Regions from separate parts of the Homo sapiens genome. Here region 2 is linked to region 1. A link means that fine-mapping ties the variant in region 1 to the expression of a gene that starts in the linked region. Tissue or cell type: whole blood. Region 1 holds a variant in brackets; the other region holds the start of a gene. All regions are shown on one strand. Distances are between the middles of the regions.

Region 1 (8,172 bases):
TGGAGGCCACAGCCCCCACTGTAGGAGGCCCCCTCGGCCAGCATCAGAGAACAAGTCCACCCCACTCCACGGACTGGAAGACCGAGACTCACAGGGGCCCGGGGCCACCCCTCAGAAGCCCACACACAGAGCCCAGCCCCACAGACACAGCTCACCCACTCAGCTCACAGGACTGAGCCTAGGATGGGCAGAGGGGACCTGGAAACCCACCCCAGCCCCAGCCCCGCCAACACCTCCTACCTGGAGGCTGCAACGAGAACTGTCAGGGCAGGAGGGGGGCTGCAGGCGCTGGGGCCGTAAATCAGGGCTCCCAGCAACCCCCAGGCCTGGAGGAATTCCAGGCCCCTCCACCGTTTCCTCCCAGCCAGAAGGGGTGTCCTGGGCCCACAACTCGGCTCCCTCCCCGTAGTGGGTACAGAGTGGATCATGAGCTTTCCTGGGCGAGGTCCCCTAAACCAATTCTCTCTCCCCTCTCCTCTCAGCCATCCCAGCTACAGGGAGGACACCGAGGCCAGGAAGGGGGGCGCGTCCATTGCCCCCCAGCTGCATGACGCAGAGTTGGACCCACGTCCAGGGCATGCCTCCGGGTGCAGCTGCTCTAAGCCCAGAGCACTGTGGCCTCTGGAGCACCACCAGTCTCCACAGCCCACTGGCCTGCCCCTGGGTCACCCCAGGCCCCGCCCAGGCCCCCTGGCAGCCTCTGCCTGCCCAAGATCCGCCACCACCCTCCACAGCACCGTGGCCTCCGGAGCACGGTCCGATGCAGGTGGAGGAGGCGCTCCCAGCCCTGGCAGCTACAGCCCCTCCCCAGCCACCAGCCTGGGCCAGGAGCTCCTGTCAAGAGCTGGACACCTGTCCTGGGTTGGTCCTGCCTCACCCAGCGCCCAGCCAGCTCCTCCTCAATGCCACCAGCCCAGCCCAGGACAGAGCTGAGCAAGCAGATGCTCAGGACCAGCCGGAGGGGCCACTTAGGCGGGCAGAACGCAGGGGCCAAGGAGCACCACAGGAAGATCCCAGCCCCGCTGGCGATGGGCACCTGCGTGCAGGCAGAGGGCAGCACATGGAACAGCAACACAGGCCTGCAACAGGACGCAGTGAGGGGGCGCAGGGCTGCACAGTGGTACACGTGTGTGTCCTGTGTGTGCACATGTGTGTCCTGTGTGTGCATGGGTGTGTCCTCCATGTGCACGGGTGTGTCCTGGGTGTGCACTCGTGTGTCCTGGGTGTGCACGTGTGTGTCCTATGTGTGCACTCGTGTGTCCTGGGTGCACACACGTGTGTCCTGTGTGTGCACGTGTCCTGGGTGTGCGTGCATGTGTCCTGGGTGTGCACGCATGTGTCCTGGGTGTGCACACGTGTGTCCTGCGTGTGCGCATGTGTGTCCTGGGTGTGCATCTGACTGGGGGCACCTGTGGGTTTCATCCCCCACCCCAGCCTGCCCCCAGGTCACACCAGGCTCTCCAGGCCCCCAACAGCCTCTGCCCACCTGAGGCCAAGCAACCCCGCAGGTGTCCTGCCCTGCTTACTCCCAGACCAGCCCCACCTCTGCAACCACCCCCCGGGGTCTCAGCCAACAGGAGGTTCCAGTCCCACAAGTTTCAGGAACCACCTGCGGCCAGTATGGGGCTGAGGGTTGGACCCTCGGCCTCACCCTGTCAGGCGCCCCCGCCTGCTCTTTGACATGGGGAGGGCACACAGGTGGGGGCACAGCCCGGTGAGTCCTCCGGACCCTGGGCAGAGGGGCAGGATGCAGGGGCAGAATGCTGACCCCCATCAGCAGCCACCAGGATGGTGTCCTGAGCCTGAGGGTCCCAGGCTCTCATGGCCCTTCCCCGTGCTCCACAGCACTCCAGCCGCCTGCCTAGTCCATGTGGGTCCCAGAGGAGCTGCTGGGCTCTGGAATCATCTTGGGAAAGGCAGGCAGAGGCTGGCCGAGGGTGGGGTAATTCCTGCCTTCCTGGGAATGGGGACAGCCTCAGGGGAGCCCTGGAGATGGATTTTCCCCGATTTACCCAGCTCCCCAGCTCCTCCCAGCAAGATGCTGGGGTGTGGGCTGCTGTGAGACTCCCCATCCCGCGGACCCTGCCTGCCTGCCTTCAGGGTCCCCTGAGTGTTACTAAACAGAGGGGCAAAGCGTGGCCCCCAACGCCCTGAAAGGGAGCCCGCGCTGCGGCCCCAGTGCGGAATCAGGTGCTCAGATCGTTCTGCCGGAGCCTCCACGTCTCTTCCAATGTGCACAGGAAGGGACCCCGGCAGTGTCTCAAACCTGCCATGGGGAGTCTCCTTTCAAAGTAGACTCGAAGCTGAGGGTGACTTGGAAGAATATCGGGCGGACAGGACCACGGTGGCCCGAGGTCCTGCGGGCAGGCTGAGTGTTGGCCGGAGGTAATTCGGGCCTGAAGGTCTCTGTCCCTCCTGCACTGAGCTGTGTGCTGCCCTCTGGGTGGGGCAGCAAGGAAGAGGCGCCCCTGTCGCCCGGGTGCTCCTGCTCACACCAGGGAAAGGGGCAGAGACAGAGAGGGCCCCTCTGTGGTCTGACCCCACCGGAGGAGATGGTCTCCTGGACGCCAAGGCAGGCCACACACGACGTCTGCTTCCTCGGGGGTCTGTGGCCTTCCACCTGACCGCCAGGCACATTCCCGGTCACTCTGCTTTCTGCTCCCCCGTTTGTCTCTCTGCCCTGGGAGAGTCGGGGCAGCTGCAGCCCTTGTGGGACCAGAGCAGGGCTGAGGCACGGTGCGGAGACAGGCAGGGGACGCCTGCCATAGTGGAGTGAGGGTCGCCGAGGCCAGCTGCTGCAGGAAGGGAATGCCGGCTCTGAGTACCACCAATGGCACAGCTGAAAACTGCAGCGATGTCCTCTCCCGCAGCCTGGAGACAGGCCTAAAATCGAGGTGTGAGCAGAGCTGTGCTCCCTCCGGAAGCCCCAGGTGAGGGTCCTTCCCGCCTCTTCCAGCTTCTGGGCCCCTGGCCGCTCTGCCCTGCATCTCTGCCCTGCCGCTCTGCCCTGTGTCTCTGCCCTGCCGCTCTGCCCTACGTCTCTGCCCTGCCGCTTTGCCCTGCGTCTCTGCCCTGCCGCTTTGCCCTGCGTCTCTGCCCTGCCGCTTTGCCCTGCGTCTCTGCCCTGCCGCTTTGCCCTGCGTCTCTGCCCTGCCGCTTTGCCCTGCGTCTCTGCCCTGTGTCTCTGCCCTGCGTCTCTGCCCTGCGTCTCTGCCCTGGCCGCTCTACGCTGTGTCTCTGCCCTGCATCTCTGCCCTGGCCGCTCTGCGCTGCGTCTCTGTCCTACGTCTCTGCCCTGGCCGCTCTGCGCTGTGTCTCTGCCCTATGTCTCTGCCCTGCGTCTCTGCCCTGTGTCTCCTCTGTCTCCCTCCAGGGAGGCTTGCCCGGGCGGGGCTGCTCCTGCCTGCTGGACCAAGCCCCGCACCCACAGCCCTGAACTGCTCACTGCCGGCGCTCCTGGGACCACCCTGGAACCCAGCCTAGGACGCACTCAGCCAGCGTCTGTCTCTCCATGTGCCTGGAGACCAGCAAAGCCAAAAGCCTGTGGCAAGGCACTCACAGGACTGAGGCCGCCTGCCCCGCCTGCCACACGTCTCTCAGAGGTGGGGGTCTCATTTTGCCACAGACACCGAAGCCACAACAGTGCAGGGCAACCTGATCAGCCCTGTCCCGGGATGGGGCCACGGCCATGTGGACACACAGTGGGCGGCCCCCGAGTGGGAACAGCCTCAGCTTGGCCCGTTTGGTTGGAGCCACCCGGGGGCCACACGCTGCAGCCCCTCCTGCCCAGCGGCTGCCGCTGGGTTCCGTGTCACAGCCACACACGTTTCCACACATTCTTCCGCTTGGGAATGGGCAGTACTTTGCACGATGGGGTCACCACCGTGTGGCCGCCTGGGCCCTCCACTTTCACGGGGCATGTCCTTCAGGGCCCCTCCGAGCCCGCCGCTGCCTCTGCCCGGCCTCCCACCAGCCACTTTTATGGGTTCACAATCACAGACGGGTCGCTGCGACGCCTGGCCCCTCCCCCAGCCATGGGGAGGACTTGCTGAACAGGGGGCCGGAAAGGGGCCCTGTCTCTCCCGGAGATGCCGTGAATGCAGCCTGGCTTCCCTGCGGCTGTGCCTGGGCAGCTGCCGGGTAAG[G/A]AAGCAGAAGCGGGCTGGGACCAGACACCAGGCTCCCCACCTGTGCAGCTGTGTCCCCCTCCCTGCCGCCCTTGCCACAGAGCAGCGCTTCCTGGTGGCCTTTTCCCCCCACCACGCCCCCCACACTCCCCTCAGGCCGGACCCCTCCATCCACAGTGGACACAGTAGCCTGGGAGCGTTGGATCCCCCACTCAGCTGAGAGGCACAGAGGCAGCCCAGGACCCTGCAGAGGTCCCCGCATAGCTTCTGCACTGCTCGGGGGGCCCTGCTCGGCCCCAGAGGCCCACTTGCAAGCATCATCAACGTGCAAGGCCGGCCCGGCCCCCGCCCCACACGAGGGGTACCTCCTCTTCTCCTAGGTCCCTGTGGGCCTTCGTCGCTGGCTGGGCTAGAAGGGCTCCCACGCCCAGCCCCTCCTGGTGTCCCTGGCTCCTCCAGACCTGTCTCCCCTCTCCCTCACACACTGAGTTTCAGGATCCCTGTGCCCCATGCCCCTTCCTGGGGACTCCGAGCGCCCCATCGCACCCCAGAGCCCCCACACTTGCTCCTCCGCCAGCACTGGGGCCGGGCTCCCCGCTACTTGCAGGCTGTGTGGTCGCCCGGCCTCCTGGAGGCACTTTGCCTCCCTTGGGAACAACCTGCTCCTCTCTTTTTCCACCCCAGAGCCTGGGGCTGCCTGGGATTGACAGGTGGGTGCAGATGGGAGCTCTCGGGCTCCTGCCCACCCAAATTCCTGGCACCGGGGCAGCTCCTGGGCCAACCAGCCCTGCCTCGCTGGCGTCTCCCTCTGCCAGCCCCACGCTGACACTTCGCCCTCCTCTCAGCAACGTGCTTCCTGCTAGCATCCTCTGAGCACCTGCTGCGTGCAGGGCCTGCCCTGGCTGCCTCCCCACTGCTCACAGACCCCGGTGTGCTGGCCCCTGCCCCATCCTCCAGGCCTGGAGTCTCCCTGACTCATTCCCCCGAATGCTCCCTTCCTTTATTTATTTATTTATTTATACCGATTCTCCTGCCTCAGCCTCCCGAGTAGCTGGGATTACAGGCGCCCACCACCACGCCTGGCTAATTTTTGTATTTTTAGTAGAGATGGGGTTTTACCATGTTGGCCAAGCAGGTCTCGAACTCCTGCCCTCAGGAGATCCACTTGCTTTGGCCTCCCAAAGTGCTGGGATTACAGGCGCCCACCACTACACCCGGCTAATTTTTGTACTTTTAGTAGACACAGGGTTTTGCCACGTTGGCCAGGCTGGTCTCAAACTCATGACCTAATATGATCCACCCGCCTCGGCCTCCCAGAGTGCTGGGATGACAAGCATGAGCCACTGCACCTGGCCCCTTCCTTTATTTAAATCACAGCCCAAAGCCACCTCTCAAAGCCCGATTCTGGCTTGCCATCCGGCCTGGTTCATGGACCCTCAGCCTCTCACCACCCCTGAGATCTCCACAGTCTCCTTGGCAGACGCCCACCTGAGGCAGCAGCCCTGACCACTTCTTTCCAGCTCTCTGTGTTCTCCAGCTCCCTGGGTGACCCCCTAAAACCAGATCACTCTCTCCAGTGTCTGGGGTCCCCATCTGTGACAGGTCTCTGGTGTGGATGAGTCTGGGGGCTCCCCCATCTCTCTGGACCTCAACTTCCTGAACTACAACTGGGCACTGTAGTGGGTTGAACAGTGTCCCCCAGGACTCACGTCCACAGAGCCTCAGGACGTGCCTTTATTTGGAAACAGCGTCATGGCAGGTGTAACTGGTTCCAGGATGGGGTCAGTGGGTCTTAGCCCGAGTGCCCGTATAAGGAGGAGAGGAGAGGCTCACAGGAGGACCCACGAACACGCAGGCAGAGCGATGTGGCCGCCAGCCAGGGAGCACGGGCAGCAGCAGGTGCTGGCAGAGGCCAGGAGGATCCTCCCTGTCTCAGGAGAAACCAGCCCTGCTGGCCGCTGGACTTTGGCCCTCTGGCCCCCAGAGCTGTGAGGGGTCCTCTGGCCTCCAGAGCTGTGAGGGGCTCTCTGTTGTCCTGAGCCTCCTAGTTGGTGGTGCTTCGTATGGCAGCTCCAGACACAAACGCAGGTGCCCTCATCATGGCCACCGCCCCGTGGGTCCTCGCTGGAGACTCTCAGAGGCCATCCCCTCCCACGGGCCCCAGGTCCCTGCCCTCTGTGCCCCGTCTGTGAAGCGGAAGGTTGGAAGACGAGGTCATTTCCAAAACTCGGCCCAGCTTGGAGACTGCCTGGTTGGCACCAACGTCCACCCCCATCCATCACCCCGCGAGGTCCTGGGGCCTCAGCCATCACGGTCCCCCTTGAAGGGGCTTCCTGGGTCCTCCAAGGATGTCCTGGCTTTCCACTGCCCAACCGGGAAGCCTGGGCCCGGGGACTTGGTGATGAGGAGAGGGGAATGAAGGGCTGGAGCTCCACCAGGGACAGAGATGGGGTGTACCAGGAAACGGGGCCAGGGGCCGTGGGGTCAGCCACAGGGGTTCAGACAGCAGGGATCCCTGCTAGAGTCTGGAGTCCCAGGTGGGAGCATCCCAGGAACCCCCACCCCTCCTGGGCCATGGGAAGGACGCTGCCTGCTGGGAGTGACAGCACTTGGCACCAAGCTGGCCAGGTTCCCCTCAAGGGCACGGCACAGCCGAGCAGGAGTGGGAGAAGGATGCGGGGCTGTAATAGGGAGGGATGGGGCACGGTCGGCTCCTGGCTTCTGGGCCAGAGAGTGTGACCCTTGGCTGGGTCCCAGTTACCTGGCAGGGCTGCTGCAGCTCCAGCCACGTCCGTCCTGCAGGGCGCCCACACCCTTTTCCCTGAGCTGGATGCCCCAGAGAGCTATTCCAGGCGCCTGGTGGAGACATGACCCGTCTGGCCAGACCGAGGCACAGCCACCACCCATGGCCTCGCCTGTGTGCCCTGGTGACTCACACCCACCGGAGCAGAGAGGCACCAGGATCCCCCTTGGCCATGCCTGGTGTTCGGGGAGGAGAGAACAGGAGCTGCCACCTGGGAAATGCCTCCTCCAGCCTCCCTGGGCCGCACCCCAGAGCCCTAAATAAATGCCTTTGCAGGTCTGCTCCCAAGAGGCACGAGGACTCCTGCCATGTTCCCTGAGACATGACTTAGCGGGCTGGCCACCATGGCCTGTCTTGCCACGATCCCAGGGCCCAGCCCTCTGTCCCCCAGCACCAAAGCCTGTCCCCATCTAGAAGAAGGCACTGGACTCGCTGTCCGCCACCCCTCCCGCCTTGCTCCCCTCCATCCTGCTCCGGGAAGGCTCCAGGCCCTCACATCCCACGGCCATGGAGCCTTGGGGAACCCGCTGCCCCGGTCTGGAACGTGGAGCAAGCTCAGGCGACGGTTTCCGCGGACAGGACAGACGGGGTGGCCGGATCCCCTGCACAGCTCCAAGTTTGGGTGACGGTTTCCGTGGACAGGGCGGACAGGGTGGCCGGGTCCCCTGCACAGCTCCAAGTTTGGGTGACGGTTTCCGTGGACAGGACAGACGGGGTGGCCGGGTCCCCTGCGCAGCTCCAAGCTTGAGTGATGGTTTCTGTGGACAGGAGGGACGGGGTGGCCGGGTCCCCTGCACAGCTCCAAGCTTGGGTGATGGTTTCCGTGGACAGGGCAGGTGGGGTGGCCAGGTCCCCTGCGCAGCTCCAGGGATCCATCTGGGAGGTGGCCGCAGAGGGAGCAGGGATGTGAGGCTGAACCGGCTGACATGCTGCAGGGTCAGGACCGGTCCCAGGACCCATCCAAGGCCCAGTGTCCCTTCAGTCCCAAGAGCCCACATCAGCTGTCCCAGCACAGAGCCCTCCCCTGGTGCTGGGGGCTGGGGGCTGAGTGGTGGGCGCAGGGGAGGGGTCCACCTCTCATAACCCAAATCCTACCCCACGTGCCCAGTCCCTGAAGCTCCGCCCCAGCTCTCTCTAAAGTCCCATCGGCCTTGTGATGCCCTTGGGCCAACGCCTGCACCCCATTCCTGATAGGGAGGGAGGCAGGGGCCCAGCTCCTGGTGGACAGTGGAGCATGGCACAGAC
Region 2 (8,172 bases), 28 kb after region 1:
GAAGAAACACATTTAAGCTTCAAAAATAAAAATTATCAAAAACATAAAAATAAAAGAGAGATGTGTTCATCACAGCCAGCCCTCGCGTGAGCGCACTCTGCCAGCAAGGAGACACCTCAGATCTGACAGGCAGGTCCCGGAGATGCTCGAGTAGACTCATCCCAGTCTGCGGACAGACACCCCGGATCCCGGACAGCCCGTGCAGCCGTTGTCGAGGGAATGTGGCCTTGAGTGCAGGGGCTCTCGGCGCCAAGACCGGCCTGGACCTCACAGCGCCCTGCAAGGCCCCTGCCACCCCCTCCTTTGGTCCTTGGGCTGTGCTGCCGTTTCTCCTCTACCGAGATGCAAAGCGAAGGTGCTGGTGCCGCCAGTCCTCACGGAAGAGGGACCAAACGGCAGCCCTTCTTTGTGGAATAATCCCACCACCTCAAAAAGAAAGATAGAAGGGAGAGGGAGCTGGTCCGTCGTCGGCAGAGGTGTGGCCATCTGGAGGCCGAGGGCCACGGGCAGCAAGCGTGTTTCCCTGCAGACTTCAGCAGGCACTTGGAGCTCAGCCACTGGGGCCCCTCCCGCCCTGGTCACACACACTGGGCCGGGACAAGGCTGCCCCCTGACGCCTGCGAGTCCCTCCCCGCGGCTGGGCCCTCAGGGCCTGGTCAGGGTGGTGTACACCGGCTGGTCCCAGTGACTGGTGGGGCTGTGGGCGGGCGGCAGGGCCAGGCCGTTGAGCAGGGGTGAGGCGTAGGGCCGGCGCGGCGAGTGGAAGCAGGGGTACTGGTAGAGGCCGGGTGCGTAGCCAGGGTAGGCACCATAGTAGCTGGAGGCCTGCAGGTCGCCATAGTCGCCCTGTGAGCCGGCGAAGGGGCCGGCGGGGGCGGCCGGGGTGGCGCTGGACTGGCCGCTGCAGGAACCGTAGTCGGGCGAGCCTCGGGGCTGGTCGCCGTAGTGGCCGGGGCTCGGCTGCTCCGTCTTGATGTGCGGCCGTGGGGGACCCGTCTCGGTGGGCGACGCGGAGGCCGACGGGGCACTCTTGTGGGCCCACACGGGGGACGCCCCGGCGTGGAAGTAGGCGCCCCCATAGGCCTGGCCCGGCTCGGGTGGGGCGGGGCCGCCCAGGGGCAGGTACTGGTCGAACTCGTGGACGTCGAAGGCGTCCATGGTGCCCATGACCTCGCTGCTGAGCTCCGAGATGTCCACGTTGCTGAAGTCGATGTTCTGGCGCCCGCTGTCCACCGGCCGGCGTCCCTCCAGCTTCAGCTCCGGCTTGGCGCCCGCCTGCTGCAGCTCCGTCTTGGGGGTGGTGGGCGGGGTGGGCGGCCCGTGGGTCTGCCCTGGGGACAGGAGAGCAGGCTTCAGGGATGAATGCCCCTTCTGTGGGGCGGGTGGGGCCGGCCAGGCTGGAAGGGGAGGGACGCCCGCGCTAACTGCCAGGGGGATCAACGGCTTTTTGTTTCTTTACATTTCCCAGAAATTCCAGCAAAGTCAGACCTAGACCTCACTCCTCGGCCGAGAAAATTCCATGAAGCGCTGTGCTATGAGAAGACCCGAGGCCCCTCCCAGAGACCAAGGTGGGGGGAAGAAGCCGACAGGCCCAGCCTGGCCAGAGCTGGGGTTTACAGGGCGCTGGGGGACCACACAGACCCTGTTCCTCCCCGGGCCAGCCAAGCACTCTGAGGCTGGCGGGCGTCAGCCAGCCTGACCGAGGCCCCGGCAGGACTCCACCCTGTCAGTCTGGCCCTGAAGCTGGGGCTGCTGAGTGCCGTGTGGGCAGCAGCTCGGTGTGGGAAGAGGAGCCCGCATTGGACTGAGTCTTGCTGAAAACACCACCTCTCGGGGTCCCTGCCAAGCAAAGCTGTCAGCCCCTCAGCACTCAAGGTGGCTAAGCAGGTCCCTCGTGCACCAAAAACAGGGGCGGCCGGGGCCTTGGGAGCTTTTTCAGGGAACCCGGGGAAGGCCCGGTTCTCTCGAGGGCGCCTGCCCCCCTCCACCATCATGCACCCTTCTCAGCCAGAAACCCCACAGCTGCCTCCCATACAGGGACCCTCAGATATGCGGGGGGCCTGGAGCCCACCTGTGTGGTCGCCATGGTGGTGCCCATCTCCAAGCCCTGCTTCAGCCTTGTACACGGCACCGCCGCCAGGGTGGGGTCCCAGCTCCGCGCCCGAGTCGGAGTCGCTGTGGCCGGCTTTGGCGCTCTTCCTGCGCCGTGGCTGGTACTTGTAGTCGGGGTGGTCCTTCTTGTGCTGCACGCGAAGGCGCTCTGCCTCCTCCACGAAGGGCCGCTTCTCGCTCTCGCTCAGCAAGCTGCAGCACAGGGCAGAGGCAGGGATGGCCAGGGCGCCCACTGTGCCCTCGGCGCAGGCACACACCACAGGGGGAACCGGCAGCAGAGGCCGGGGCCAGGAGGCTCTGACCAGGGAAACCCGCCTGCCGTGCGCTCCGGAGCCTCCCGTGGCACCAGGCAGTACACTCCTCTGGGAGAACCGGCCGGCGCCTGTTTGGGAAGGTTGGTATGCTTACGACAGCCAAAGAAGAACAAGCCCCACGCCTCCCATCTTCCTCCTTCTATTTCCCCCTATTCCGGGCCTGCTGTTCCCTCCCTCTGGGGCTTTCTAAGGGAGGCGGGGGAGGCGGGCAGGACCCAGCCGGCGGTGGACAAAAGCGAGGCTTCCCGGGAACGGTGCCGGCCTTCGGCGGGCAGCTGGGCTGCTGTCCCTCCATTCCCAGACACCCAGAAGCCCTGGCAGGGCCCAGGCGCCCGTCCTCACTGAGCCACAGGACACACTCCTTGGGACTCTTCCCGAGGCTCACCTCCAACCGCCTGTGCGGCAGGACTTGGGGGAGCAGGGGCCTGCCGTCCACAGCGCCCCGTGGCTGCGCCCTAGATCCAGACAGAAGGCAGGAGGTGCAAATACGCAAGCTCCAAGCTCCCTTCTTCCAGGTGAGGAGCAGGATACGGGAACCAGAGCCCCAAACCAAGAGAACCATTTGAAACCCAACCAGAGGACACTCGGTGGGGGCGGCCTGTCCTGAGCAACAAGTTCTTCACTCTGCAGTCCTAATTTCTGGAAAACTGACCGGCCCCACCACGCCAAGGCGTGCACACGGCGCACCCCGTCATCTCCACTCCTGCCCTCCCTGCTTCGGACCGAGGGTGTCCAGGAGAGGGAGAAACTGCGGGGAGGGTACTCGCAGGCAAACCTGCTGCCCACCCATCCGCCTGCCGCACTCCCTCCCCATGGGTGGTCCAGGAGCTAGAGGAGCTGAGCCCTTTCTAAGGAGGGAGCACCTCCAGAGAGCCGCATGCAACTTGCTGTCGTGCCGGGCGTGCCTCCCGGGGCTGGGGCCACTCGCAACGGCTGGAGGGCACGTCGGGGTGCCAGCCATGGCCCTCCGCAGGGTGTTCCCCGCCAGGAGAACTGGCTCCAGAGCGCACCCGCCACGAGGGTGCACACCCCAGGCGCTGCCCTCCGCGGATCCCGACTCCCATAGCTGGCGCCGGACCCCGGCTGGCCAGAGGATGTTTTTCCACTGGGACCCGCCCTGACACCCGCCCGGGGTGCAGAGCCCGGAGCCTGCGTGTGGCCACCACCTCCGCGAGCTCTGCGCCCTCCAGGCCCCCGCTCGCAGTCCGAGACCAGGGGCGGCCAAGGTCCCGAACCCCGCCCCCGGGGCGCCGGCACTCACCGCCACAGCTTGCCCAGCGTCTTGCTGAGCTCGGCGTTGTGCAGGTGCGGGTACTGGTCGGCCAGCTTGCGGCGCGCCGCCTGCGCCCACACCATGAATGCGTTCATGGGCCGCTTCACATGCGGCTTGGCTTTGAGCGCGCCGCCGCCGCCGCCGCGCACCGGCATGGGCACCAGACTCCAGTCGTAGCCCTTGAGCACCTGCGACACGGCGTCGCGGATGCAGGCCGGGAAGCGCTCGTCCGCCGCCTCCGCCGGGTCGCCCCGGGCGCCCCCCACCGCGACCCCCGCGCGGCCCAGGCCCTCGGAGCCGGCGGGAGACGGCGGCGCGTCCGAGTCCGAGTCCTCCACGTGCGACATGGAGCTGGCGGTGCCGGACGGGCTGCAGGGCGGCTGGGAGCGGGCCTCGCTCATGTCCAGCATCGGGGCCGCGCGCGGAGGGGCGCGCACAGGAGACGCGCACCGGGGCCGGCGCCCGGGGCTGCCCTGCGGTCGCTCCGGGACCCGAGGTCGCCGCGCGGTGGCCCCGACCCTCGCCCCTGCCGCCGCCGCCGCCGCCGCCGAGGCTCGGGTCCCGCTGCGGGACCCGCAACAAGTTTCTTTAAGCGGCGGCCCCGCGGCCCCGCCCCGCGCCCGGCTACCCATTGGCGGAGCGCGCCCCGATCCCCCGGAGGCGGAGCCCGGCCGCCCCCGCCCCCCCACCCATAAAGAAAGCTCCGCGGCTCTCGCCGCGCCCCCGCCTGCCCCGCCCGGCGCCGCACCACGTGGGCCAGGCGCCCCACGCCTGGAGCTCCCCTCTCTGGAGCCCCGGGAAAGGAAGCGGGGCAGGGAGGCCGGGTGGGAGCAGGGGGGTCTCCGGCGCTTCCTCTCCTCTGCGGGCGCCGCGCGGCTCCTGAGAGTCCGCCCCCCGTCCTGACGCTCAGCTAGGAAGCGGGTCCTCGGGCCCCTCCCCCGACACACACACACACACACACACACACACACACACACACACACACTCTCTCTCTCTCTCTCTCTCTCTCTCTCTCTCTCTCTCTCTCTCACACACACACACACACACACAGCCCGTCTCGCGCCTGAGGTCTCGCCCGCAGGCCGGTGGCGCGGGGTCAGCTGCTGCCTGCGGTCCAGGACAGGGTCGGTTCCGCCGCGCAGCGCCCAGGCCCAGCTCGTCCAGAGTCTGCGGACAGCGCACGTCCAGGTAACGCGCTTCAAGGGGCCGCGGCTCGGAGCTGGGGGACCCCGGGCCGCCCTGCCCATACGAGTGCGAGCGTGGAGAGCGCGGGCGGGGGCGCGGTCCCGGGGGCCGGCCAGCTGGAGGGGGCGGGAGCGCTGGGCGGGGCCTGCGCTGACCCCGGCGCTGAGTCCCTGGGGCCGCCGGGCGGATGGCGTGGCCGGACGCGGGGGCCCCGGGCCTTCCGGGCGTGACCTAGGGCTCGGGGGCGGGGAGGCCCCTCCGGCGGGGCGGCCCTGGGTGGTCCGGCAGAGGCGGAGGCCGCTCCGAGCCTGTGAGCCCTGGGCGCCTGCGGAGGCGGGGAGAGGGCGGGGTGTGCCGCCCTGGTGGGGACCGCGGGGTCGGAGAGGGGACATTGCCCCCCCCGAGGCGAACGTCCAACCGCGGGTCCGGGTCCCCGCCCAAGGCCGCCCCGCGAGGTGGCCTCGGCCCGGCCGTCCCCGAGGGTGGCTCGGATCCTTTCAACCAGCGCGCTGGAGGCGAAGGGGCTGCGCCATTCCGGGTCAGGCAGCCAACGCGGGACACGCGCGTCTCCGAGCTTGCGGCCCGCGAAACCCGGGTGACCTACCGCGCCGGTGCCCTCAAAGCCCCCACGCCCGGGCCGGTGGCCGCTGCAGCCACTGAGCCACGCGGTCTCCCCGGCCCGGTCGGCAGAAGGAGCTGGTCCGTTACTAGAAAAGTCCAGATGCAAAGTCGGGGGTCGTGCTGCCGCTTCCTGCCAGCGCACCGCACCCACCTGGGGCCGCCACCGACCGCACAGGACGCGCCTCCTACCCCCTGTTCTGGCCCGGCCGAGAGCTGGTGCCCCCAGCGGCCGCCCGCCCCCGTCCGCAGACCCCGGGGCCCTTGCTGCTTTGCATTGGGAACAACCGGAGCCAGGCCCGGAGCTGAGGGGGCCAGGGCCTTTGGAGGAAGCATTGGCCTCCAGGCTGAAGAGCAAGGGCCGTGTCACCTGCCCGGAGGGCGGTCTCATCTCTGCAGCCAGGTCAGAGGAAGCAGCGGTGGGGAGACGGAGTGCGCGAGTTGGGAGGCTCCACGCATCGTAGGTGGAGAGCTGGCTGCCAGCCTGGCCTGCCCTCTCTTCCCCGTCCCACCATCTCGCTTGGCTCCGGCACCTGCCTGGGAAGACCCACACCTCCGTCTGCAGTGCCTCTTCCCCCTGGAGGCCCTGCCCTCCGCTCGGGGTCCCCGCATCCTTCCGTGGCCCTCAGAGCATCGCCTGGGGCGCCCGCGGAACTCATCTGTTAGGCCTGGGATGCAGGCAGGCAGAAGTGGGGGTTTAAGTGGAAGCAGTGAGGGTGGGGGTCCGGTCCAAACTGTGCCACCTTCCACCCCCTGCCCCTGGGAGAGCAGACATCGCCCACTCGGGCTCACAGTGCCATCCGGGTGAGGACCTCCGTGGAGAGCTCTCTTTGCCAAAGAAAAGCAGTTGCATTAGGTCTGCGAGCAGGCAGGGTGGCCTCTTCCTGGCTCCCCATCCACCAAGGAAGCTTCAAGTCCCTGGGACACAGGTGGGGAACTCCAGCACCCCTGGAGGAAGGGAGACTGAGGTTGGGGAGTGGCATCCAGGCCCTGACTCTGGGGCACGGTGGTCTGTGCAACTGAGACCCTGCCTCAGGCTCCAACAGCGCCTGCTCCTTTCCCCAGGTTGCAGTGATCACCAGGGGAGGTGCTGGGCGTGCAGGCTGCCACAGGAGGGGTGGGGAGGTGGGGAGTCTCTGTGGCGGGGTGGTGGGGGCCTAGGCCAGTCAGCTGAGGACGTGTTGGTGCACTCCCGGGAGGGCGGTATGTGGGTGAGGATCCCCATGCAGAGTGGTGCCCACAAACCCCCCTTCCAGAGTCATCTCTGGTCCACCTTGAAGTCCCCAGGAAAATGACCTCGTCCTCCGCGGGTGTGAGCCACTAGGCCTGAGAGGACGCCGGGACGGAGCTTTCAGAGAGGGAGGTGTCGGGATGGCTTGAGGGTCACCAGGTATTAATTAAGCACTTGCTGTGTGCCAGGCACTTTCCCACACAGGATGGAGCCGGGCCACCCTCACAGCTCCTGCCCTGCAGACGCTGGCCTTGTGGAGGGAGGCAGGCAGCAGGTAACTCCAAAAGCACCTCTCAGAGGCGGGGACTTCAGGAAGGATGGTCTGGGAAAGCATCTTTGGTGTCATTTAAGCTGAGCCCTGAAGCTTCTGATCTCCTGCAGGGAGAGGCCAGCGTGTTCCCTGGGGAAGCTAGAGCAGAGTGTCTGATGACAAGAGATGGACCCGGGGGTGGAGAGTGGAGGGGCAGCCATCAGAGCCACCTCTGAGTCCACCTGATGGGCCCATGTCTTCATCCAGGGGGGAGCTGCACACACACCCTCCTCCCCTGTCTCCCATCCCTGCCCCACCCCTTCAGCTGGGGCCTGCTCCGCCGTGTCTGCATGGCCCCACCCACCCTGACCTCACCACCTGCTAGTGGGCCTTGCAGTTTCAGGGGGAGTGTACGTTTCAAGTATACCCTGATGGGGGAATCTGGACCAGGGCTGTCCCCTGGGCCGTGAGTGCCGGGCGTGGAGAGCTGGTGTAGATGACATTTGTAGCTCCACATGCCCTGGCCTGGGCGCCAAGGACAGCCGCAGAGAAGAATGTGGGTGGACAGGCTCTGCTGCCCATGAGATGGTGCAGGGATGGCCTGGGGGATGCTTCCAGATGAGAGACCACCCCACCCTACCCGTGGCTCCTAGGGATGGCGACCCCGGAGGCGCGTGTGTTCATGTGTGTGTGTGGTGTGTGTTTGTATGGTATGTAATGTGTGATATGTGTATGGGATGTATGTATGGGGTGTGTTTATGGTGTGTGTGGTGCGTGTATAGTGTGTATGGTGCGTGTATAGTGCGTATGGTGTGTATGGTGTGTGGTGTGTATGTGTATGATGTGTGTGATGTATGTGTGTGGGGTGCGTGTATGGTGTGTGGTGTGTGTGTGTGTGTATGATGTATGTGTGTGGTGTGGTGTGTGTATGGTGTGTGGTGTGTGTGTGTCCGTGTGTGTTTGGTGTGGTGTATGTGTGCAGGGTGTGGGTGTGTTTGTGTGTGTGTGATGTGTGGTGTGCGTGTGTATGATGTGTGTGTGTGGTGTGTGTGTGTGCGTGTATGTGTGTGGTGGGGTGTGTGTATGGTGTGTGGTGTGTGTGCGTGTGTATGATGTATGTGTGTGGTATGTGTGTGGTGTGTGTGTTTAGTGTGTGGTGTATGTGTGCAGGGTGTGGGTGTGTTTGTGA

The links. PIP is the estimated chance that this variant, and not a neighbour inherited with it, causes the effect.
Region 2: it holds the start of SOX8, and the variant in region 1 is fine-mapped to the expression of SOX8 in whole blood (TOPMed, PIP above 0.99).

What each region holds. Positions count from the first base shown.
Region 1 is chr16:1,006,334-1,014,505 of GRCh38, reverse strand. No RefSeq gene overlaps it. Among named protein-coding and RNA genes, the nearest start is that of SOX8, 29 kb to the right of the region's middle. RefSeq lists a silencer at 1-150 and an enhancer at 3,904-4,523. The variant G/A (reference allele first, on the strand shown) is at 4,146.
Region 2 is chr16:977,860-986,031 of GRCh38, reverse strand. It overlaps SOX8 (SRY-box transcription factor 8), which reads right to left and starts at 4,262. Exons shown (of 3, transcript NM_014587.5): 1 at 3,688-4,262; 2 at 2,072-2,304; 3 at 1-1,331. The coding sequence starts at 4,109. The coding sequence ends at 646. It overlaps CEROX1 (cytoplasmic endogenous regulator of oxidative phosphorylation 1), which reads left to right and starts at 4,419. Exons shown (of 3, transcript NR_164343.1): 1 at 4,419-6,431; 2 at 6,922-7,007. It also overlaps a transcript of LMF1 not described here.